Homo sapiens: one gene and its partners. The protein of the gene in region 5 interacts with the protein of the main gene of each other region in a pairwise test. Each region holds a gene or a part of one and is shown on either strand. Other genes may lie near its edges.

Evidence for each region.
Region 1: the proteins of ZNF526 (region 5) and OVOL2 interact in binary tests that used the Homo sapiens proteins (3 or more experiments, as listed by UniProt).
Region 2: the proteins of ZNF526 (region 5) and YJU2 interact in binary tests that used the Homo sapiens proteins (3 or more experiments, as listed by UniProt).
Region 3: the proteins of ZNF526 (region 5) and U2AF2 interact in binary tests that used the Homo sapiens proteins (3 or more experiments, as listed by UniProt).
Region 4: the proteins of ZNF526 (region 5) and SPANXN2 interact in binary tests that used the Homo sapiens proteins (3 or more experiments, as listed by UniProt).
Region 6: the proteins of ZNF526 (region 5) and ZFP91 interact in binary tests that used the Homo sapiens proteins (3 or more experiments, as listed by UniProt).
Region 7: the proteins of ZNF526 (region 5) and PBK interact in binary tests that used the Homo sapiens proteins (3 or more experiments, as listed by UniProt).

What each region holds. Positions count from the first base shown.
Region 1 is NC_000020.11:18,051,417-18,054,916, reverse strand, and holds part of OVOL2 (transcription factor Ovo-like 2), read left to right. Parts: intron 1-3,500. UniProt on the Homo sapiens protein: Zinc-finger transcription repressor factor. Plays a critical role in maintaining the identity of epithelial lineages by suppressing epithelial-to mesenchymal transition (EMT) mainly through the repression of ZEB1, an EMT inducer.
Region 2 is NC_000019.10:4,250,080-4,253,579, reverse strand, and holds part of YJU2 (splicing factor YJU2), read right to left. Parts: intron 2,554-3,500; coding exon 2,409-2,553; intron 1-2,408.
Region 3 is NC_000019.10:55,658,035-55,661,534, reverse strand, and holds part of U2AF2 (splicing factor U2AF 65 kDa subunit), read right to left. Parts: intron 2,674-3,500; exon of another isoform or gene 2,554-2,673; intron 2,326-2,553; coding exon 2,190-2,325; intron 1,359-2,189; coding exon 1,314-1,358; intron 1,020-1,313; coding exon 916-1,019; intron 498-915; coding exon 346-497; intron 1-345. UniProt on the Homo sapiens protein: Plays a role in pre-mRNA splicing and 3'-end processing. By recruiting PRPF19 and the PRP19C/Prp19 complex/NTC/Nineteen complex to the RNA polymerase II C-terminal domain (CTD), and thereby pre-mRNA, may couple transcription to splicing.
Region 4 is NC_000023.11:143,714,604-143,717,752, forward strand, and holds part of SPANXN2 (sperm protein associated with the nucleus on the X chromosome N2), read right to left. Parts: intron 1-3,149.
Region 5 is NC_000019.10:42,226,007-42,228,701, reverse strand, and holds the end of ZNF526 (zinc finger protein 526), read right to left. Parts: coding exon 2,286-2,695; 3' UTR 501-2,285; downstream 1-500. UniProt on the Homo sapiens protein: May be involved in transcriptional regulation.
Region 6 is NC_000011.10:58,585,563-58,589,062, reverse strand, and holds part of ZFP91 (E3 ubiquitin-protein ligase ZFP91), read right to left. Parts: intron 1-3,500. UniProt on the Homo sapiens protein: Atypical E3 ubiquitin-protein ligase that mediates 'Lys-63'-linked ubiquitination of MAP3K14/NIK, leading to stabilize and activate MAP3K14/NIK. It thereby acts as an activator of the non-canonical NF-kappa-B2/NFKB2 pathway.
Region 7 is NC_000008.11:27,809,124-27,811,470, reverse strand, and holds the end of PBK (lymphokine-activated killer T-cell-originated protein kinase), read left to right. Parts: exon of another isoform or gene 1-303; coding exon of another isoform or gene 304-336; coding exon 337-513; exon of another isoform or gene 514-969; coding exon 970-1,166; 3' UTR 1,167-1,847; downstream 1,848-2,347. UniProt on the Homo sapiens protein: Phosphorylates MAP kinase p38. Seems to be active only in mitosis. May also play a role in the activation of lymphoid cells.

The DNA of each region.
Region 1 (3,500 bases), on a different chromosome or scaffold from region 5:
TTGGCAGTTTTCAAATGACTGACCAAATTGCCTGTGACTTAGCACGTTGTATAATTATAAAGTTCTTTCCAAGGCATGCTGAACTCACAATTTCTCTAAGAATTAGTTTCTTTTCTTTTCTTTTCTTTTCTTTCTTTTTTTTTTTTTTTTGAGATGGAGTTTCGCTGTTGTTGCCCAGGCTGGAGTGCAATGGCTGGATCTTAGCTGAGTGCAATGGCTGGATCTTAGCTCACTGCAACCTCTGCCTCCCGGGTTCAAGTGATTCTCCTGCCTCAGCCTTCCGAGCAGCTGGGATTACAGGCATACGCCACCATCGCCGGCTAATTTTGTAATTTTAGTAGAGACAGGGTTTCTCCATGTTGGTCAGCCTGGTCTTGAACTCCCGACCTCAGGTGATCCGCCTGCCTCAGCCTCCCAAAGTGCTGGGATTACAGGCGTGAGCCACCGCATCCAGCCAAGAATTAGTTTCTTAGGCAGTGGGCTCCCAGGACCACAAGAAGGGCAGGTTTGAGCTATTGCCTGGCACAGAGAAGCAACACTCTGCCCGTCTAACACCTGGGGTGTGCAAGGCAGCAGGAGGTAAAAATGCTCCCACCCTGGTGTTCCTTCCAGAATCATCTGGCAGTAGCGGTTAATCATATAAGCTCTGGCTTTGTCACTTCTTAGCTGTGGACCTTGAGCAAGTGGCTCACCCCTCTGAGCCTCGGTTTCCTTATCTGTAAGATGATAATGATACCTACTTGATAGCATCGTGAGGATAAATGAGTGGAGGGTAGAACATGGTATGTGCCCAATAACCATAGATAGTATTCAGGTTAATAGGGAGACACAAACATTATTAACTCTGCTGCAGGACAGTGAATGTGAAACCAGAATTCCAAACAAAGACGTGACCGATTTGAGTGGGGAAAGTGTCCTGATGTGGATTTGAAGGCTGGGGAGAAGGGAGGCGGGTGGGCCTGAGGGCAGTGTGGGCTGAGTCCCGCAGCTGGAGCATAGAAAGGATGAAGCTCTGGTGGCTGAAGATAGGAAACAGGGCTTGCTGGGGTCAGGGAGAGAGTTGGCGGTAAAGAGCTGGAAATGTAACCAGGACAGGGTGAGATGGTGAAGGGGCCAAGCCAAGAAATATGGGTGCTCCTGCTGGGCAGAGGAGAAGCTCTGGATGATGTAAGAAGGAAAACCTCAATCGGGTTCCTCTTTTTTTTTTTTTTTTTTGAGACAGAGTCTCTCTCTGTCGCCTGGAGCTGGAGTACAGTTGCGCAATCTCAGCTCACTGCAAACTCTGCCTCCCAGGTTCAAGTGATTCTCCTGCCTCAGCCTCCCAAGTAGCTGGGATTACAGGCACCTACCACAAAGCCTGGCTGATTTTTGTATTTTTAATAGAGACGAAGTTTCGCCATGTTGTCCAGGCTGGTCTTGAACTCCTGACCTCAGGTGATCTGCCCACCTTGGCCTCCCAAAGTGCTGGGATTACAGGTGTGAGCCACCGCGCCCTGCCATTTGGGTCCCTCTTAACGGCTGTGTTCATGGATCATTATCTCTTCTGAGCCTCAGTTCCTTGATCTGTAAAGTGGAGGACTCAAAGAATCAGCCTCCTAGAAGAGTTGCATAGATTAAATGAGATAGTGGGTGTAAAGTGTTTAGCTTTCTGTGCATGTGTAAACTGCCCAAGAGGAAGTTAGCTGACAGTGACATACAGCAAGTTTTAATGCCCAACATTTTGTTGGCTGTAAGGACATGGGATTCACTAACTTGATCGTGTTGATGGGTGGATCTGGAAAAGGAGTCCGAGGTGCAGATTAGGAAATGTGGCTGGCCCTTCCCAGCCTACCTGCCTTTTGACGGTGTGCCTCAGGGCAGATTGTGAAATTGTCTCTTTACTACTGAGAATTCTGTAATTTGCCAAACAAATAAGGGTGAGAAGATGATGTACATTCCAGAGAGTGTGCATGGCAGGTCCCTTTTGTGCTGGATCCATCTGCAGGTCTTCAGCTGCGGGGTAGAGAAACCCAGGAAATACTAATCACCATTGTCCTTTGGAGGCTTATTAGAAAGTAAGTAACTCTGAAGTTGGCTGATAGTATTCATACGTGATTCTCTGGCTGGTAGGACCCAGGTCCAAGTATGGAGTACCAAGTGAATTTGTCCTCTCACCCTTTCCTATTCTGTTCTTTCTTTTTGTCCTCTCCCATGGGTTCTTCAAAATAAATTAAGTTTAGATTCTTTCAAAAGTATGCTTGGCCTTTTACCCGGCTCTCTATCGAGTCTTGTAGTGGTGCAGATGTGTGTCTACGGAGTAGTCCCCATACCCCCATCACTTTGTATTATTTACAATCTCAAAGGCATAGTCATACGTATCTGCCACCCAGCCCCAACAACCATTAACCCATGGCCAGTCCTGCCCAGCCACACTCCCACCCCTTGCCCCATGCATGATTCTGAAGCAAATCTAGGACATCATACCATTTCAACCATAAATAGTTCAGAATGTGCGTTTAGTGGATAAAGACCAAAATTCATGATCACACCCACATTACCAATTGTGTTCACATTACTAATTGTCTCATAAATTAATACTTTTCCCCTCCAGTTTGCTTAATCAGGTCCACATAATGTCCACACATTGTAATTGATTGGCATGTCTTTTGAGCCTCTTTTAATTTCATACATTTTCCCTCCATCAAGTTAATTGTTGAAGAAATGGGTGATTTGTTTTGTAGAGTCCCCAACAGTCTGGATTTTGCTGAGCGCATCACCATGTGCCTAATGTTTCTCAGTCCCCTAGGTTTTCTCTAAACGGATAGTTGGATCTGCAGCTGCAGCATCCAGTATCACATGTGACTATCACAGCCATAGTCAATTAAGAATTAACAATTAGACCAGGCGCCATAGCTCATGCCTGTAATCCCAGCACTTTGGGAGGCCGAGGCGGGCGGATCACCTGAGGTCAGGAGTTCAAGACCAGCCTGGCCAACATGTTGAAACCCCGACTCTATTAAAAAAAAATACAAAAAAAATTAGTAGGGCTTGGTGGCATGCACCTGTAATTCAGGCTACTCAGGATGCTGAGGCAGGAGAATCGCTTGAACCCAGGAGGTGGAGATTGCAGTGAGCCAAGATTGCACCACTGCACTCCAGCCTGGACAACAGAGCGAGACCCTGTCTCAAAATAACAGTTAAGTTCTTCAGTCCTACTAGCGACATTTCAAATGCTAGTAGCCATGTGTGACCAGAGGCTAATGTACTGGACAGTACAGAATATAATTTTTCTGTCACCACAAAAAGTTCTATTGGATAATGCAACTCTCCCTGCTTGGTCAGCTCTATTTTATTTCAGCTAGAATATGTCACACTGTGGGGCATCTGTCTTCATCAGAGGCACTGAATATTTGGTTATCTCTCTTTTTCTGATGTTAGCAGCTGTTGATGCTCAGGACCTAAATATTTTGGCTTATTAGGTGTTCTAAAACAGCAATAATCTAATTCTGTCCTCTGTTTAT
Region 2 (3,500 bases), about 38 Mb from region 5:
GGACAGGGTCTCGTGCTGTTGCCCAGGCCGGAGTGCAGCGGCAGGATCATGGCTCACTGCAACCTCAGCCTCCCGGGTTCAAGCAATCCTCTCACCTTAGCCTGCCGAGTAGCTGGGACTACAGGTATGCACCATCACACCTGGCTAATTTTTAAATTTCTTTTTGGTAGAGACAGGGTTTCGCCATGTTGCCCAGGCTGGTCTCTAACTCTTGGACTCAACCGATCCTCCTGCTTTGGCCTCCAAAGTGCCGGGATTACAGGCATGAGCCACTGCACCCAGCCACAGCCTACAATGTTAATGGTAACATTCCACCTTTAGTTTCTTTTTTTAATTAAAATTTGTGTGTGTGTGTGTGTGTGTGTGTGTGTGTGTGTGTGTAGACACGGACAGGGTCTCACTATGTTGCCCAGGCTAGTCTTGAACTTCTGGTCCCCAGCAATCCTCCTGCCTTGCCTTCTCAAAGCGCTGGGAGTAAGCCACCATGCCTGGCCCCACCCTTAGTATCTTACTGTGACAGATGTACCCTGGTTATATAAGATGCTAATATTCGGGGAAGTTGGTGAGGGGGTAGGTGAGAATTATCTGTACTATCTTTGGAACTTTTCTGTAAATCTTCAGGTATTTCAAAAAAAGTTTTTGTTTGTTTTTTTGCAGACAGGGTCTCACTCTGTCACTCAGGCTGGAGTATAGCAGTGAAATCATGGCTCACTGCAGCCTTGGCCTCCCAGACTCAATTGATTCTCCTGCCTCAGCCTCCCAAGTAGCTAGGACTATAGGCGCATGCCATCATGCCCAGCTAATTTTTATATTTTTTTGTACTGACGGGATCTCACTATGTTGCCCAAGCTGGTCTTGAATTCCTGGATTTAAGCGATCCTTCTCCCTTGACCTCTCAAAGTGTTGGGATTACAGGCGTGAGCCACTGCACCCAGCCAAAATATTATTATTATTATTAATTTATTTATTTATTTTTGAGACGGAGTCTCGCTCTGTCGCCCAGGCTGGAGTGCAGTGGCGCGATCTCAGCTCACTGCAAGCTCCGCCTCCTGGGTTCACGCCATTCTCTTGTCTCAGCCTCCCGAGTAGCTGGGACTACAGGCACCCGCCACCACGCCTGGCTAATTTTTTTCTGCTTTTTTTTTAGTAGAGACGGGGTTTCACTGTGTTAGCCAGGATGGTCTCGATCTCCTGACCTCATGATCCGCCTGCCTCAGCCTCCCAAAGTACTGGGATTAGAGGCGTGAGCCACTGCGCCCGGCCTATTTTTGTATTTTTTTTTAGTAGAGTTGGGGTTTCATCATGTTGTCCAGGCTGGTCTCGAACTCCTGACCTCAACTGATCCACTTGCCTTGGCCTCCCAAAGTGCTGATTATAGCTGTGAGCCACTGCGCCCAGCCCAAAATGTTTTTTTAATCAAAGAAAAAAAGCTTATGGCAAAAAAGTATTCAAAGAGTACTTAAGCATAGGAAGAGAAAATTTTAAGTTATCTTCAGTCTTTCCTTAAATTCTCAAGGTAACAAATAAAAGTCAAATTGCAATTTTTATTGGCTGTGTAATATTCCATTGCACGCTACTTTTTTTTTTCTTTTTGAGACAGAGTTTCATTTCGTTGCTCAGGCTGGAGTGCAATGGCGCAATGTTGGCTCACTGCAACCTCTCCCTCTCGGGTTCAAGCGATTCTCCTGCTTTGGTCTCCCAAGTACCTGAGATTACAGGCATGAGCCACCACGCCTGGCTCACTTTTGTATTTTTAGTAGAGACGGGGTTTCACCATGTTGGCCAGGCTGGTCTCAAACTCCTGACCTCAGGGGCTCTCTTTCCTGCCTTGGCCTCCCAACCTGCTGGAATTACAGGCATGAGCCACTGTGCCTGGCTTTTTTTTTTTTTTTTTTTAGTTGGAGTCTTGCTCTGTCACCCAGACTGGAGTATAGCGGTGCAATCTTCGCTCACTGCAACCTCTGCCTCCCAGCTTCAAGTGATTCTCCTGCCTTAGCCTCTCGAGTAACTGGGATTATAGTCCGCCACCATGCCCAGTAATTTTTGTATTTTTAGTAGACATGGCATTTCGCCATGTTGGCTAGGGTGGTCTTGAACTTCTGACCTCAGGTGATCTGCCCGCCTTGGCCGCCCAAAGTGCTGGGAGTACAGGTGTGAGCCATGCCCAGCCTGCATGCTAATTTGTTCTTCTCATCCCTTATTATTATCTATCTAGGTTGCTTCTGTCTTTTTGCCTTTATTTAGAATGCTGCCATGAACATCTCCCCCAAACTGTTGTCTGTTTCTTGGGGATAAACTGAAATGAGATTCCCTGGATGGAGAGGATTGGAGTTAAGGAACCCCAGGGCCCGCCCTGATCTGAGGTGTGCTGGGGGAGAGGGACCGGCCTGGCCGGCCGTCTCACCTACCTTGAAGGTGATCTCTGCCAGGCAGCGCGTGCACTTGATGTAAAAGCGGAAGATGGGCAGGCCCAGGTAGACCTCGTTCTGCACCGTCTCCTTCCGAGCATTGAATTTCTTCCCCTTGTAGATGTATTCTCCGCACGTCTTACACCTGCGGGGCAGCATGTAGGGATGTGAGCTGTCTTGGGACGCTGGCTCCCACTGGCAGGCTGTCCCTGCGGCATCCTGCAAGATCACTGCTTGCTTGCCTCCAGCAACGGGGAGCTCCCTCCTTCAAGAGGCAGGCTGCCCCACCCTGTGTCCAAATTTCCTCTACCTGAGAACTTCGTGTTCTCATTCATATCTTCCTGGGGCTCAGTCCAAGGGTCGCCTGCTTGGGAAGCCCCCTGAGTAGGTGAGGCCTGCCTGTCATGCACTCCCAGAAGCAATCTTTGTGCTTACGGGGCACCCCACCCTCCAGGAGGAAAGATGCCACACAGAAAAATGCTGCCCCACCCCCCTCTTCCCCTCCTACTCCGGGCTCTGCTCCCCAGCCCAGCACGCCCGCCTCCTGTCTGATCCTGCAAACACCCCCAGCTCAGTCCCAGCTCAAGGCCTCTGCTCCTACAGTCTCATGGCCGGCGACACCCTTCATCCTCAGACCTCAGCGCCACCAGTATTTTGCCTGATGTCACCGTACCCCAGCTACCTATAGCCCTCCCTCCTGCGCCACTGCCCCAGGGGCTCTCTCCTGCCTGACTTCGGGGGCCCGTGCACCTGCCTGACTACCACTATTCTCCACTTCCCATTAGACTGTGGGCTCCATGAGGCCAGGGACTTTGTTCCTGGCGCTCGGCACAGACCCTGGCACACAGCAGGTGCCCAATAAATGAGTGTTGAATGAATAAATGAATGAATGAGGGGGAGGAGTAGACAGGCCAACAACACATGGGCATGAACCGAATTTCACTGACCCAGATGTCTCTTTCCTCGTTAGGTGCGTGATTTCAGATATGCTAGAGCATGAAAAGGTATGGGGTTGAGAGTTGGTGAAATACAGTAATTCTGAAGTGCTACAAAAGGCAAGATCTGGGCACCGTGAGGGGATGATGGAGGCCT
Region 3 (3,500 bases), about 13 Mb from region 5:
TGTGTGTGTGTGTGTGTGTGTGTGTGTGTGTGTGTCCAAGTCTCCCTCTCTGTCTCTCTCCGACACGTAGGTACAACACGTGGGTACATTATGTGTGTGCTTGATCCCTGGGTTGCTGGAGGAGGTTGGGGGGAGGGGAGACGGGAGAGGGGAAGAGGAGGGAGGGAGGGCCACCCCCAGCCCGGCCCCTGGCTGGCTCAACTCCATCGGTCCGTCTGGGAGGGGGCCGGGGGGTCTTGCAGGAGCAGAGTCTGACCCGTGCAGGTTGGGGAAAGGGAATGGAGGGAAGGGGAGGAACGGGGTAGAGGGACAAGGGAGAGGGTAGGGGGCAGGGGAGGGCAGTACCTCAGTGATGCCAAAGGGGATGTTGCCCACGTAGAGGCGCCGGGCTTGTCTGGTCATCTGGCTCCCGACCACGGGCACCGGCGTTGGGGTCACAGCCAGACCGTCAGGGGTCATGGTGGGGAGAAGAGCAGTGGCTGGAATCTGACCCGCAGCTTCAAAGGGAATAAAAGCCGGATAAAACCCCATCAGGGGAATGCTCAGTGACCACCCCTCACCACACACTGGGAGTTCCCCTCCTCAGCAGAAAGCTCCTACAGGCTCTCGGTCTTAGCACCTTCCAGAACCCTCTTTCCACCCTCGGGGCCCCCACCCAGTAACTGCTGCTCCTCAGAAGCCTCACTTCCTAATGGCGTCCAGATGGAGGCCTCATTCCCCTGTCAACCACGGGTGTCTCTGGTCATTTCCTCCTCTAGGGAGGCTTCAAAAGCGCAGAGACCAGAACCCCCAGGGGTGTGCAACCCTCTACCTGTGTCTTTGACCCCCTCCAAGCACACACGCAGGGGAATGACTGACGGAGAATCCCAACCCCTGTACCCTCCCGCTCTGGGAGCAGCCTGGCCAGGGGCCTACCTTGCATGGCCTTGTACTGCATTGGGGTGATGTGCTCAAAGCCTGGGGGTGGCACGTCCCAGTATTTACGGACCTTCTTCTTCTTCTCGTGGCGGGGGGAACGACTGGGGGAGGTGGGAGGGGAGAGCGGGGCAGGGCAACCTCAGTCTGACCAACAGTGGGCCTGCGAGCCCCCTCCCAGGCACCCTTTCACCCTCCCCGCAACCATGTAAGCTCCACTCTCTCCAGGGAAGGAGAGGGTCTGGGGCAGGGCCTGGGAAAGGGGTGCTGGTTTCAAGGTAAGTGGACTCTTCCCAGTGCTTGGGCCAGGGCTGGAAATGGGCGGGACAGGGTGCACGGGCGTGAGGAAGGTGAAGGGAGTGGACATCAGGGAGGAAGGGGCAGGAAGAGAAGCTCACATCAGTCCACCGTGCTCCTCTTTAGCGCCTCTGGTCAAAGGTTTGCTGGGGGGTGGGAGGGAAAGGTATGGGGAGGGGTGACTGGGGACCCTCGTCTTCCCCACATGCCACACCCCCCCAAGGGCACTGAGCCCCAGGGTGGGAGCAGGGCCGAGGTCAACAAGCAGCAAGCAGGCCACCCTCGGCCCTGCCATTTCCCCCCAAACACTCCCACCCCCAGGAAAGAGGAAGTGAGGAAAGGAGAAAGGGGCCAGGGGCCAGGAAGGACCAGTCTCTAGCTGGAGAAACTGAGCCGGGAGGAGGCAGGAGGACTTCCGCCTATCCTGCCCTTCCTCACCTAAGGAGGCAGAGAACAGAAAGGGGAGCCTAGAAGGGAAGAGGCGGTGGAAACCGACACCCCTGGGCCAAAAAGTCAGCCCAGGCTGTGGATACTGCCTCGGTCCCAAGAGCTCCCTTCTCCTGGGAGGCAGGGAAGAAAGAAACTGGAGGCAGAGACCAACCCCCTCGAAGAGAGTCCCACAGAGAGCCACAGAGAGTCGAAAAGAAGGAACAGGCCCTCAGAGTCAGAGACAGAGAACAACCCCTTGTGAAGGAAAACACAGAATCAATTCCCAGGCTCCAGATAAAGAGCCTATTGCCCCCAGCAACCCACCAGCAACCACCAAGACAGAAAATGAAAGAAACCCCAGAAACGGGGGAAAAAATCGGAATCCAAGACAGACCAAGCAGTAGATCCCTCCCCCAGATCCACACAAAGAACGAACGAGCCACACAGGGCCCGGACCCAGACACAGACACACACAGGCCACCCACAGGCCGGCCAACACCGACCCCCCGACTCCCAGGCTGGCCCAGGGGATCCCTGAGCCCTAGTACCTGCGTCGTCGCCTGTCCCGGGAGGCGCTCCGCTGGTCCCGGTTGCGCCGGTCGCGGCTCCGGCTCCGGCGTTTGCGGTCCCGGCTCCGAGAGCGGCTGTGGCTGCGCTTCCGATGCCGGTTCTCCTTGTCCCGCTCTGGGCAAGGGTGAGAGGAGGGGCACGGGATAAGCGGAGTAAGGATGCGGGCCCAGCCCACCCTGCGCGCTGGTGGCTATGTCCCAAGCCCCAGGGAGGCCACCCCCAAAGGGAAGGGATTCAATGGAGGAAGGGAATTAACAGGCCTCCTGGGTCCACAAGCGAGTCCAGGGACCATGAGGGGACCAGGGGGACGGGGCCTGGAAATGCCCCCGGGGTGTAAGATACCTGAGGATGCTCAGGAGGAGCTGGGGAGCCAGAGAAGACAGAGGAGGCTGGCTCCTGGTCCCCCTCGAGGGCTGAGGGGCCTGACCCCAGGGTCGTCCCTGAGAGGGGCAGGGCTAGAGGCTGGGGAATCAAGAGACCCAATGATGTTTTCCTGAAGGGACCCAGCGACCCCTCAGGAAAGACCTCTGCAACTAGCTGGCACCCACAGCCCCACCATCAGGACTAGGGGTCAGGTGCCAGGCAGGATCTGATATCCCCAGGAAGCAGGGAAACTCAACCCATCCCTTCCCAAGCCGGTGAATAATGCAGAAGCAAGCACCCTTCCCAGGGGAAGAGAAGGGCCTCGGAGAATCTGCAGACTGAAGGGGAAAGAGGCCCTCCTCTCCTTCAGCAGGTCAGGGGAGGAGCTTGCCCCATCCAGACTTGAATCCCAAACCACTTGAATCTCTCAGCCTCACTCCCTTCAAAGCCAAGTACTGAAGAGACTGTAAAGGCGTGAGTAGGGGCGGGTATCTCTGCCAGCCTCCAGCAGGCTCCCTCAACCCTCTATTTGCCTGAGGTAGCCACTAGGAACGGAGCCTCACTGGCAAAACCACAGAAACCTCTGCTCTCACCAGACCCTTCAACCCCTGAAGAGAGACCGGCCCTTCAAGATGGAGGATAAACCATGAGCATGGGGGGGCGGGGGGGTTCATGAGCACCGCCACACCATTTCCTTAATTCAAAGACACCCAGATTTCTCAGCTAGCCATGAAGCACACACACAAAACAGATGCACACGTTAAGGTGCTTATATATGTTAACACGCATCTCCTGGAGTGATCATCCCTGGGGACAAGAGGAGGAAAGGGCACTGAGGGAGGATGTTAAACTTCAGCCTCACCCACAGTGTTTTGTCTCACGTTTTTGCGATGCAATGTGAATGTCTGGAAAAGCATCACAATTCC
Region 4 (3,149 bases), on a different chromosome or scaffold from region 5:
AAATAAAGCTGTCCCTGCTCGTTTCCTCTCCTGCCTTTCAAAAGTCACAACTAAATATGCCACCTTAAGCCCTAATACCAATAAGGGCAAAAACTACCTCCATTTATACTTTATCTCCCAGTCAGACCCAGACATTTGAAAAAAACTTAAAAAACTGGAGGGTGGCCCTCAAACCTTCCAAAGAGACTTAATCAAAGTGGCCTTCAAGATCTATAAGATTAGAGAGGAAGAACTAAAAAATCCAAACCTAAAGAAGGACCAGGCTAAATACCAAATGCTGGTAGCTGCCACTCAACAGGGTTCCCAAGGCCTACAGAATTCCTCAACTTGGCAACAGTCAACTCCAGGAGCCTGTTACAAGTTCGTCTAACAGGGACACTGGGCAAAAGCCTAGCCTAATCCCAGGACACTCTGGAAATCTTGCCCCATCTGTGGTATCAAGCAACACTGGAAGTCAGACTGTGCTCACTGAAACTCTTCATCCTGCTTCACCACCTGTACCTGAAGACAGGTGGGGCCTGGAGTCCACCGCCCCTACTGCCATCACCACCTCGGAACCCAGGGTAATTCTGTCAGTCTCTAGTAAGCCCATGTCTTTCCTATTGGATACTCAATAGGACAACTAGTTACTCAGTTTGACCAGAATATTCTAGACCCTTTTTCTGTTCTTCGATCTCTATTGTGAGAATCAATAAAATCCCCTCTAGGCACAGACTGGTCCTTTATTATACAACCTATTCAGCAGCCCCCTTCACCCACTCTTTCCTGGTTATCCCTCAGTCCCCTACCCCTATCTTGGGATGGGACATATTAAGTAAATTCCAGAACTCCATGCAATGTGGCTCCTACAATTCTACCCCTTTTATTTTACTCTGACACCCAAACGCTTCCCTCTCCCCCCACTCATCCTCATTATCCACCCTGTTACCTTCTGTTAATTCTAAAGCTTGGAATGTTTCTAAACCCACAATAGCCACACATCACATCCCAGTTAAAATAACCCTTCAAAACCCCTCCATTTTCCTTCATCAGTCTCAATATCCCCTTAATCCAGCCTTGCTTAGGGGGTCTCAAACCTATTATCTGTAAACTTTTACAAGCTCATATTCTCAAGCCTGTTAACTCTCCCCACAACACCCCTATTCTGGCTTTCCAAAAGACAGACGGGACTTACCCCTTTGTCTAGGATCTCCAAGTCGTTAACCAGGCCGTGGTACCAATCCATCTAGTGGTCCTCAACCAATATACTCTACTCTACCGTATTGCCCCATCTACCACACACTCCTTTGTATTGAACTAAAAGACAACTATTTCACTATTCCCTTAAATCTGGCTTACCAAAGTCTTTTTGCTTTGACTTGGTCAAATCCTAATACTCACATGTCCTGTACTCTTACAGGACTTACACATGGACTTACACCTAGACTGTACTCTTAGAGGGGTTCCGGGATAGGCCCCACCTGTTCAGACAGGCCCTCATCAAGGACCTAGCTGAACTTCCCCTTGCTCCTAGTACCCTCCTCCAGTATGTCAATGACCTCCTTCTCTGTAGCCCCTTTCTTAACCTGTCCATTCAACACACCACTCAGGTTTTAAACTTCCTTCATAATCAAGTATATTGGGCCTAACCCACAAAATCTCAGGTACCCAAATCAAAGTTACTTACCTTGGGTTTGTTCTAACCCCTAATTCTCGAGCCATCCCAACCCAATGAAAGGAGCCAATTTGGGACATGCCCCTTCCCCACATAAAAAAAAAGGACCTCCCCTCCTTCTTGGGCCTTGTGGGATACTTCTGGCTGTGAATTCCTAACTTTGACTTGCTGGCCAAGCCACTATACGTAGCCTCACATGGGCCCATCCTAAAACCCCTGAACCCAGCTTGCCCCATCAACTCCAACTTAAAAACTTAAAAATGCCCTTTTAATGGCCCTGGCACTGGGACTGCCAAACCTCACCAAGCCTGTTACTTTCTATGTACATTCTGACCAGCGCCTTGCCCTTGGACTACTCTGCCAAACATATGGCAACGCCCCAGAAGCCATTGCACGCCTCTCAAAACAACTGGACTCTGTCATCCGAGGCTGGTCACTCTGACTAAAAATCTTGGGTATGGCCACATTGCTGGCCTTAGATGCACGGAAACTCCCTCTCTACCAACACATTACTATTGCATCTTCCCATTATCTACAGGACCTCATAAACCACCAATCCCTTCTATCCCTCCCACCATCCTGCTTACAGCAGGTGCATGCCTTATTCATAGGTAACCCTCTAATCACCTTCCAGAGACATAAAATTCTCTACCCAGCCACCCTTCTCCCTGTAAACACTTCCGACTCTAAGCTCTCTCACTCCTGTCTGGACCTCTTAGACTCCCTCTCCTCCCCCTTCCAACACATTTCAGATGCCCCTTTGCAGGGAACACATACACGGTTAGTTAATGGAACCTCTTTTAGGCAGCCATGTCCAGCAGCTGGCTATTCCATCAGTGCTGAAGATAAACTCCTAGAATCGAATGCTCTCACACCCCATGCTACCTCTCAACAGGCAAAGCTAGTTGCCCTAACCAGGGCCCTCACCCTAGCAAAGGGAAAGAGGGTCAACATTTACACCCATTCCAAATATGCATACCATGTCCTACAGTCTCATGCCTTCATCTGGCAGGAACAGGGTTTCCTAACTACAAAAGGAACCCCCATAAGAAATGGCAAACTTACACATAAGCTGTTGGGGGTGGATAAACCACCACCAAAGGCCACCATTATCCATTGCAAGGGACACCGAAAGGCTACAGATGCCAAAACCGAGAAAAACCTTTCAACAAATTCGGCAGCCTGGCAGGCAGCCCTTAAAACCCCATCGTTATTGCTCATTTTTTTTCCCAGCATACACCCTGTATATACCCAGCAGGAAAAAAACCCACTTGCCCAGGCTGGTGCCATTCAGGAAAAAATAGTTCGATCTCACTGATAAAGTGTCTTGCCCAAGTTTAAAAAACCTTCTGTACTTTCATATGTGCACAACCATTTCCATGCCGGTTACTGCCCCTACTCCAGCTTTTAAAAACTTCTAGACATTCTTCCACCATGGTTGCCCATCTCAGAGATATTACTAAGGCATGTTCCCTTTGCACTCAAACTTCCCCTC
Region 5 (2,695 bases):
GTCTCTACTAAAATACAAAAATTAGCTGGGTGCAGTGGTGGGGGCCTGTAATCCCAGCTATTAGGGAGACTGAGGCAGGAGAATCGCTTGAGCCTGGAAGGTGGAGGTTGCAGTGAGCTGAGACTGCACCACTGTGCTCCAGCCTGGGCAACAGAGCAAGACTCCATCTCAATCAATCAATCAATCAATGGAGAGAAAGACTATTATCCTAGGTAACCTCTGAAAAAGGTGGGAATCTTCCTGCTCTCAAGACCTTTGATGTTTCGAAGCCCCTTCAAATCCCAATAGCTCTGACACTGGTTTACTTTTCCTCTAGTTAGAATGAATCTTCCTCTGATCCCCTACCCCTGCACAAGTTTCAGGTCTTAATCACTCAGAATAGTATGGGTTACAAATGTGGGCCGCAGGGGCCTCCCGTACTCAAATCTCACATCTCTGCCTAGCTGTGAAACCTTGGGCAAATCTCTGTCCTTAGTTTTTTTTTCCTTTTTTTTTTTTTTAAGTGACAGGGTCTTGCACTGTTGCCCAGACTGGAGTGCAGTGGTGTGAACACAGCTCACTGCAGCCTCAATCTCCCTCATATCAAGCAATCCTGCCTCCGCCTCAGCCTCCAGAGTAGCTGGGAATACTGGTGTGCACCACCATGCTCGGCCAATCATTTTTATTTTTAATAGAGACAAAGTCTCTCTCTCTTGCCCAGGTCTTGAATTCTTGAGCTCGAGTGATCCTCCTGCCTCAGCCTCCCAAAGCACTCGGATTACAGGCATGTGCCACCAGGCCTGGCTAACTTTTAAGTTTTGTAGAGATGAGGTCTTGCTGTTGCCCAGGCTGGTCTCGAACTCCTGGCCTTAAGTGATCCTCCTGCCTCAGTCTCCCAAAGCACTGGGATTGCAAGCGTGAGCCACCGCACCTGGCCAGTTTATTTTTATTTTTATTTTCTTTTGAGAGGGAGTCTCACTCTGTCGCCCAGGCTGGAGTGCAGTGGCGCGATCTCGGCTCACTGCAAGCTCCGCCTCCCGGGTTCACGCCATTCTCCTGCCTCAGCCTCCTGAGTAGCTGGCCACCACAGGCGCCCGCCACCACTCCTGGCTAATTTTTTGTATTTTTAGTAGAGACGGGGTTTCACCGTGTTAGCCAGGATGGTCTCGATCTCCTGACCTCGTGATCTGCCCGCCTCGGCCTCCCAAAGTGCTGGGATTACAGGCGTGAGCCACCACGCCCAGCCACCAGTTTTAAAAATCTATACAACAGGGATAATATGAAATCTATGTCACAAGCCTGTTGGGATCATAGTACACATACAGTGGTAAGTGTGGTGCTTGCCTCAGGTAGGCAGTCAGATGAATAACTGGATGGTCTCCAAATACACCAAGAGCTCACCCTCTTGCAGTGCTGTCTGCCTGGAATGTTCTTTTCCTCTTTCACTGCCAGATTCCTACTTTTCCTTCAGGGACTACCTTCTCTAGGAAGTCCTTAACTCCTGATCTCCCACCATGGAGGTCTGTTTCCTGGGATCCCACTGTCCCTGCACATCCCCATCACAGCCCAGAGAAGCCTTAGGCCTGACTCATCTCTGCCCCCAGCATCACCCAGTATGGGAGAAGGGAGGCTTTAGGACACACAGGCTGAATGAATCAATGAGACACACTCAGAGAGCAAGCTATCTGTACTTGTGCGTTTCTCCTACCAGATTGTGCATGCCTCCTGTGGGCAGAGCCTGTGCTGACTTGCTCCTGGGTCTCCAGCATCACCCAGTCTGGAGCTGAGGACCTGGGTACCTACAGATTTCCTTCCACACTGTCAGAATTGAGATGAAGGAAGCCCAGAGAAATCAAGTACCCTCCACCAGGCAGAGCAAAGTCCTGGGTGCCCAAAATCCAGGGAAGGCAAGGGCTGGGGGTACAAGCAGAGGATCTGAAGAGGTATATGAGAGTGGCCAGCACAGACCTGGCATAAGCTTGGTGCTCAGTGAAGGTTACCTGATGTTGCTGGGCACCAGGGTGATGCAGTGCAAAGGGCCTTGGCCAACCCACTTTGCAGCATAGCTGGGTGACCTGGTACAGATCACATCGCATTTCAGAGCTTCAGTTTCCCCTCAGGCAGAGAAAGATGACAAGAGAAGCCTGGAAGGGTTGTTCTGGGGAGTCAGTGGGTAAAAAGAGGCCAGGGTGGATCCTGGCACATGGTGGGTACCAGACCAGTTTGTCAGAGGAGGTCCTCTCTCCCCAGAGGTACCCACACTGGCTGTTGCAACCAAACCCTTTTGTTGTTGCTTTTCAGCTGCGTCACACGAAGGCCGTGTCCAACTGCAAGAGCCCGCCTGCTTCACTGGCCCCCAGTGCAGCCTGGCACAGCTGCAGGGTGTCCTCAAGCGCCAGTGGCTGGGATGTCTCAATGATGGCGATGGTCTCCCCCAGCTCTGTGCACATGATAGTCTGTTGAGGCTCTGGAGGTGGGGGTGGGGCAGGAGATGGTGATCTGGGAGGCTGTAGCGTCAAAGTCCGAGCTCGGGCATGGACCCGCTGATGCAGTCGCAAGCCCGCCATGGCGCGGAACCAGCGGCCACAAGTCCCGCAGTAGTAGGGACTCTTGTTGTAGAGACCAGTGATGGGGAGGCGGGGGGCGCGGGCAAAGGCGACTGGCCGCAAGTGCAACCGCCGGTGCTGCTGCAGGTTGGAGCTCTGTGTGAAGCGCT
Region 6 (3,500 bases), on a different chromosome or scaffold from region 5:
CCTATCTGAGTGTTAAGACTGGGCTTATACACGCCCTTTCTCACCTACAGATTTTCCTTCCAGAACTCTTTTTCTATTCAAAACCTAAAAGATTTTATTTTGACTGGGAAAACTAGGTCATTAGCAAGGAGATTCAAAATCTTTCAAGAAAGAATTGTGAAGACAATGTTCTCAGTATCTTCTCGATTCTTCCTTTTGTACACAAACTCAAATGGTAAGAATTACAAGTTAGATTTTTCTCACTGGAATGGGAAAAAAAGCATAAAAATGTGTCTTCTGTATTTTTAGAAATAATAAAAATATTCTTTAAATATACTAGAAAGAAAGAAAAACCAACAAAAAAGTATACTATAAAACAGACACATCTGTAAAGGAAGTAAAAACAGTCAATGTTATATTGAGGTTGCAAGTTGACAAGAGGCCAAGATGAATGGGATACAAGAGACTGATTTGAGAGGATACGATAATCAAAGATATTTCAATACATGAAAAATAAAACTGTTGAAATCTATGAAAACTGTTAATAACAAATTAATTCTAATTTTAAAACATGGAGCACAGAGGCATAAGCTATAAATTAGACTGTATCAATATAAGAAAAAAACTGAGGATGTCATCCAGACAGGAGGAAAAATAATCAAAATAAACTAATACTTTAGTAATAATTACAGATAGTATGCTGATTATGATAAACTAGGTAAGGTAAATACTTAACAGTTAAGCTCCAAATAATCTAAGTAAATGCTGAGATCTGTTATGAATTTATCTGATGACTGACTTCTTTTTTCCTGACTACACAAGTTAGAGACTCACAGTAATCACTGTCAAACATCACTATTTCATAAGAGCAACTGAAAAGAGTAAAATGATTTTGAATAAAAGGTTGAGATCCAGAGTTTTATACAATCAAATTTTCAAGCATGCAGTATTTCCAAGTATGTTTTCTGTAAACTCCAGTTTTACGAAATGCTCTTTAAAAAGGGGGTCTTATAAGTCAAATAGGTTAGGTAATCGCTGCAAAATTTTGGTATTTACACTGCACATTACTCAAAAATCAAAGTTTCTGAGAAGTTCTGCAATAAATAACCTATCTAACATTAATAACTGAAGCACTGCCCACATCTACTTGATTCTACAGTATTTATTATCATTCCATTAAACATTTAAAACATACTTTAATAAACATTAAGGTATTCTGGTCTCCATTTTTATGTTTTATCTTGAGAGGCAGTTTTAACTATTATTCCTCACTAAGGACATAACAGATGGGAGAAAAAAAAATTAGGCTTCATAACATGTCTAGTCAGAGGTTAGAAAGTGAAATAAGTTAAAATGAACACTGGGATAACTAAAAATTACGTGTAGGTAGACTATTCTTTTACTTTATAATCAAAGTACAACACTGGTTCAAAACAGAGAAACAATGAAAACATAAAGCCAAGTTAAAAAGGAACTAGATCTCCATCCCTTAAGATTTCTACTAACACTCTTGGAAACTCCACAATCATGAAGATAATCCTCTGCCAGTGGTAAACTAAGCTTTCAAGTTTGAAGTAATTTTTCCTTTTTAACTTTTGTGTGGAATGTTCCTTGTCCAAATTAACTATCTGCATATTCAGGTGTAATCTCAAATGTCACCTCCACCAAAAGGTCTTCCCTTATCATTTCATCTAAACTTAGCTTTCTCAGCTCCAACTTCATCAAACATTATTACACTGTTTTGACTTCTTCATTTATTTGATTACCAGTAGAATCCAGTGCCTAGAATAGCGCCAGACACATAGTGGATGCTCAACAATTACCTGTTGAATGAATTAACACTATTTTAGCATAGTAGCTTTCCATTTGTTTTATACACCAATCACGGTTAAAAAAGGGTAGCAAAAACAGGAACTAATACTCATGTTTATTATTTCAGTTTGAAAAAAATGAATGTAGCACTTTGCAACTTAACTTTTTTTTTAAGTTGCAACTTTGCAACTTAATTTGCAGCTTTGCAAATTAATGGAAAGTTGCCTACTCTGTGTGTGCAATATTGTTTATGTGTATGTCAAAGGTTCTTCTCTTCAACTCAAAGAAGGCATACAATTTCTAGATGGTTTGAGTAAATAAGAGTAAAAACAATCCTGAAGATATCTTTTCAGCATTAATATAACAGAAGGCCAGTCTTACCTCTAAAAAATAAAACCTGTTTAAAGTTTTGAAAAACCCTTAACTTCTGAAATGAACATGAGTTATTTCAGTTAAAATTTAGCAGACTGAACATGAGGACTATTCCAGAGTACCAGAATAACTGAGAAGTTAAATGACCAGAAGAAAAGTAATTAAGGTGAATTCTAAATACGAAACACAACAGGAAAAAGTGACTACCCGAGCCTCCATTTCTTTATTCATTCATCTTGTATGAATGTTACAGTTCTTATATACCTATCTACTGTTCATAGAGTTGAACAGCTACCTTAATGGGTAAACTAACAGAGATGAAGATTGGCATTTGAGAATATCTAGATCCAGGGCCTTTAAACAGTAAAGTGGGATTGATCTTCGGATCAAATTATCCAGAATGTAGTTTTAATCTCTCCACAGCTGCACAACCACAAAACATGCCAATAAGTCAACTTCTAGTTTAAAACATTTACACACGAGGCAGGCGGATCACTTGAGGCCAGGAGCTCGAATCCAGCCTGGCTAAACCCTGTCTTTACTCAACAAACAAAAAAAAGACGTCTACCCAAAGGTCATCTACTTTTCTCTCCAAAAGGGGCTCCAAATTTCCACCTTTCTTCAAGTTCGCCTCAAGGCAACCCATAGTGATTTCTTTGGACACGTAAGGTAATTTCAGCTCTGACAAAAGCAGGTTGCTTTTTGTTTTAATCAGAATGCTCTAGACTTGTTACCTGTCTCTATATTTTCTCCACATCATAAAATCTCCAAATTGATCTCTGAATAAGAAATGTGAGACCTTCCATTTTTGGCAGACATAACCTATTTTCTAAGTAACAACAACAGGAACAAAAAACTTGCTAGACAAAATAATCATGCCAAGGTTTCTAAATAAAAAAAAAAAAATGCCAGGTATGAAAAACCTCTGCCTGCTATACTATGAAATATTAGACTCACATTCCAAAATTCAGAGAAATAAGAAACCTTAGCATTGAAACCTAATTATTTACAAAGCAGCCACCACCAATGCAAGTTATTGGTTCTTAAATTACACTATCATTCTTCCATATGGCACAAAATCCAGGCTTTAAACTTGCCTTATACGTTCTCGAAGAATTATTTATCAAGAACAGAAAAACCTTAAGATTCTCATGTACATGTAATACATACACTGATATATAAAATGCATATACATATATTCTTTTATAGAAATAGTAGCAGGCTATAAGCAGACCTTAAAAGCTATGGATACTAGGTGGATTCTAGGAGTTTGGAAACTGGCTGTGTCAAGCCTGGGTCAAGGTCACACGTAATAAAAGAAATGTGCCTAAAAGTAT
Region 7 (2,347 bases), on a different chromosome or scaffold from region 5:
GTCACGCAGCTTGCACACACATGTCTTTGAACCAACCCAAGCAAGGCAGTCTGGCTCCAGAGTCTGTAATCTCAACATCCACATTCTATATTCCTACTAATTTGTAAGAGAATTGCTGTTTCTCTACATACCTGCCAACTGACCAGCTTCTTGAATATTTACCAACCTGAAAGGTAGAAAGTAATCCTTATTGAGGTTGAGTGTATTTTTACATTTTCTGGCTACACTGATTAACCTGTGAACTACTTGTTCAAATCGTTCGCCTGTTTCCCTTTGGGTTGCTTGCCTTTTCGTGATTTGTAGCTCCTGCCTTCATAACCATCTTGCTTGTTTCAGTGACTGACCCTGAGGCTTGTTACATTGGCACAGAGCCATGGAAACCCAAAGAAGCTGTGGAGGAGAATGGTGTTATTACTGACAAGGCAGACATATTTGCCTTTGGCCTTACTTTGTGGGAAATGATGACTTTATCGATTCCACACATTAATCTTTCAAATGATGATGATGATGAAGGTATGAATACAATTTCTAACATAAATCCCAATCTCTTCATTTCACACTAAAGATTATATAATTTTATCTTTCTAAGATATGTATTAGTACTGATGACTGATTTGGTACCACCAAGGTTTAATCTCACACAAATGAGACATAGATTGAGAATAGGGAGAAAAATTGAGGCTATCCAGAGAAGCAAAACATTATCTTAAAAACTCCCCTTTCCTGAGAAAATGATTGATTGGAAAACTATCACAGGAAGGGTAAAAGTAGGGGTCGATAACCTATAAATCCAAGACTAAAGCAAATCTACTTGATGGCAGGACAATTGAAGACATTTCCATTCTGTCTGTGGCAGAATGGAAAGCATACTGGACCATAAATTCTTGTTTCAGGAGAAGGGTGAGCTATTAAACTTTTCCATGACATAAAGTGATTTTGTTTATTGTTTCAATCTCTAACTCCTTCAAGATAAAACTTTTGATGAAAGTGATTTTGATGATGAAGCATACTATGCAGCGTTGGGAACTAGGCCACCTATTAATATGGAAGAACTGGATGAATCATACCAGAAAGTAATTGAACTCTTCTCTGTATGCACTAATGAAGACCCTAAAGATCGTCCTTCTGCTGCACACATTGTTGAAGCTCTGGAAACAGATGTCTAGTGATCATCTCAGCTGAAGTGTGGCTTGCGTAAATAACTGTTTATTCCAAAATATTTACATAGTTACTATCAGTAGTTATTAGACTCTAAAATTGGCATATTTGAGGACCATAGTTTCTTGTTAACATATGGATAACTATTTCTAATATGAAATATGCTTATATTGGCTATAAGCACTTGGAATTGTACTGGGTTTTCTGTAAAGTTTTAGAAACTAGCTACATAAGTACTTTGATACTGCTCATGCTGACTTAAAACACTAGCAGTAAAACGCTGTAAACTGTAACATTAAATTGAATGACCATTACTTTTATTAATGATCTTTCTTAAATATTCTATATTTTAATGGATCTACTGACATTAGCACTTTGTACAGTACAAAATAAAGTCTACATTTGTTTAAAACACTGAACCTTTTGCTGATGTGTTTATCAAATGATAACTGGAAGCTGAGGAGAATATGCCTCAAAAAGAGTAGCTCCTTGGATACTTCAGACTCTGGTTACAGATTGTCTTGATCTCTTGGATCTCCTCAGATCTTTGGTTTTTGCTTTAATTTATTAAATGTATTTTCCATACTGAGTTTAAAATTTATTAATTTGTACCTTAAGCATTTCCCAGCTGTGTAAAAACAATAAAACTCAAATAGGATGATAAAGAATAAAGGACACTTTGGGTACCAGAAGGTGTCTCAGCATTATTTTATACTTCATTGATTTGAGTGTTGTCATTAAACTTGAGTAAATGTGAGGTTTCTTTCCCTCTCTTGGCCTTATTTTGCTAATCTATAAAGTGTTTTGGATCAGTAGTTTCTGTAAGCCACAGTCCCCTGGGAATTTTCCAAATTACTGAATTGCCAATGTAGGTGGTATACCTACATTTGGGTGTAGACAGAATTTTAAAAATTACCGACACAGGGCGTTCTCAGAAACATTAGGAACAACTGCACTCTGAACTTTAAAAATGCCTAGAAATCACTGAAGGCCTTTTGGTATAAGATTGTACCAAGCAATAGGACACAACATTAATTTGCATATATTCCATCAAAATAATGTGACAAGTAAATTGGAAGTTGTCTTAATTTGTAGAAAAACGTATGTATAATTTTGCATCCTGATACTCAATAGGGTCTCTTATCCTCACTCTGACATGTGTCACTCTTCTTTGCCAAGCCAACAGAGC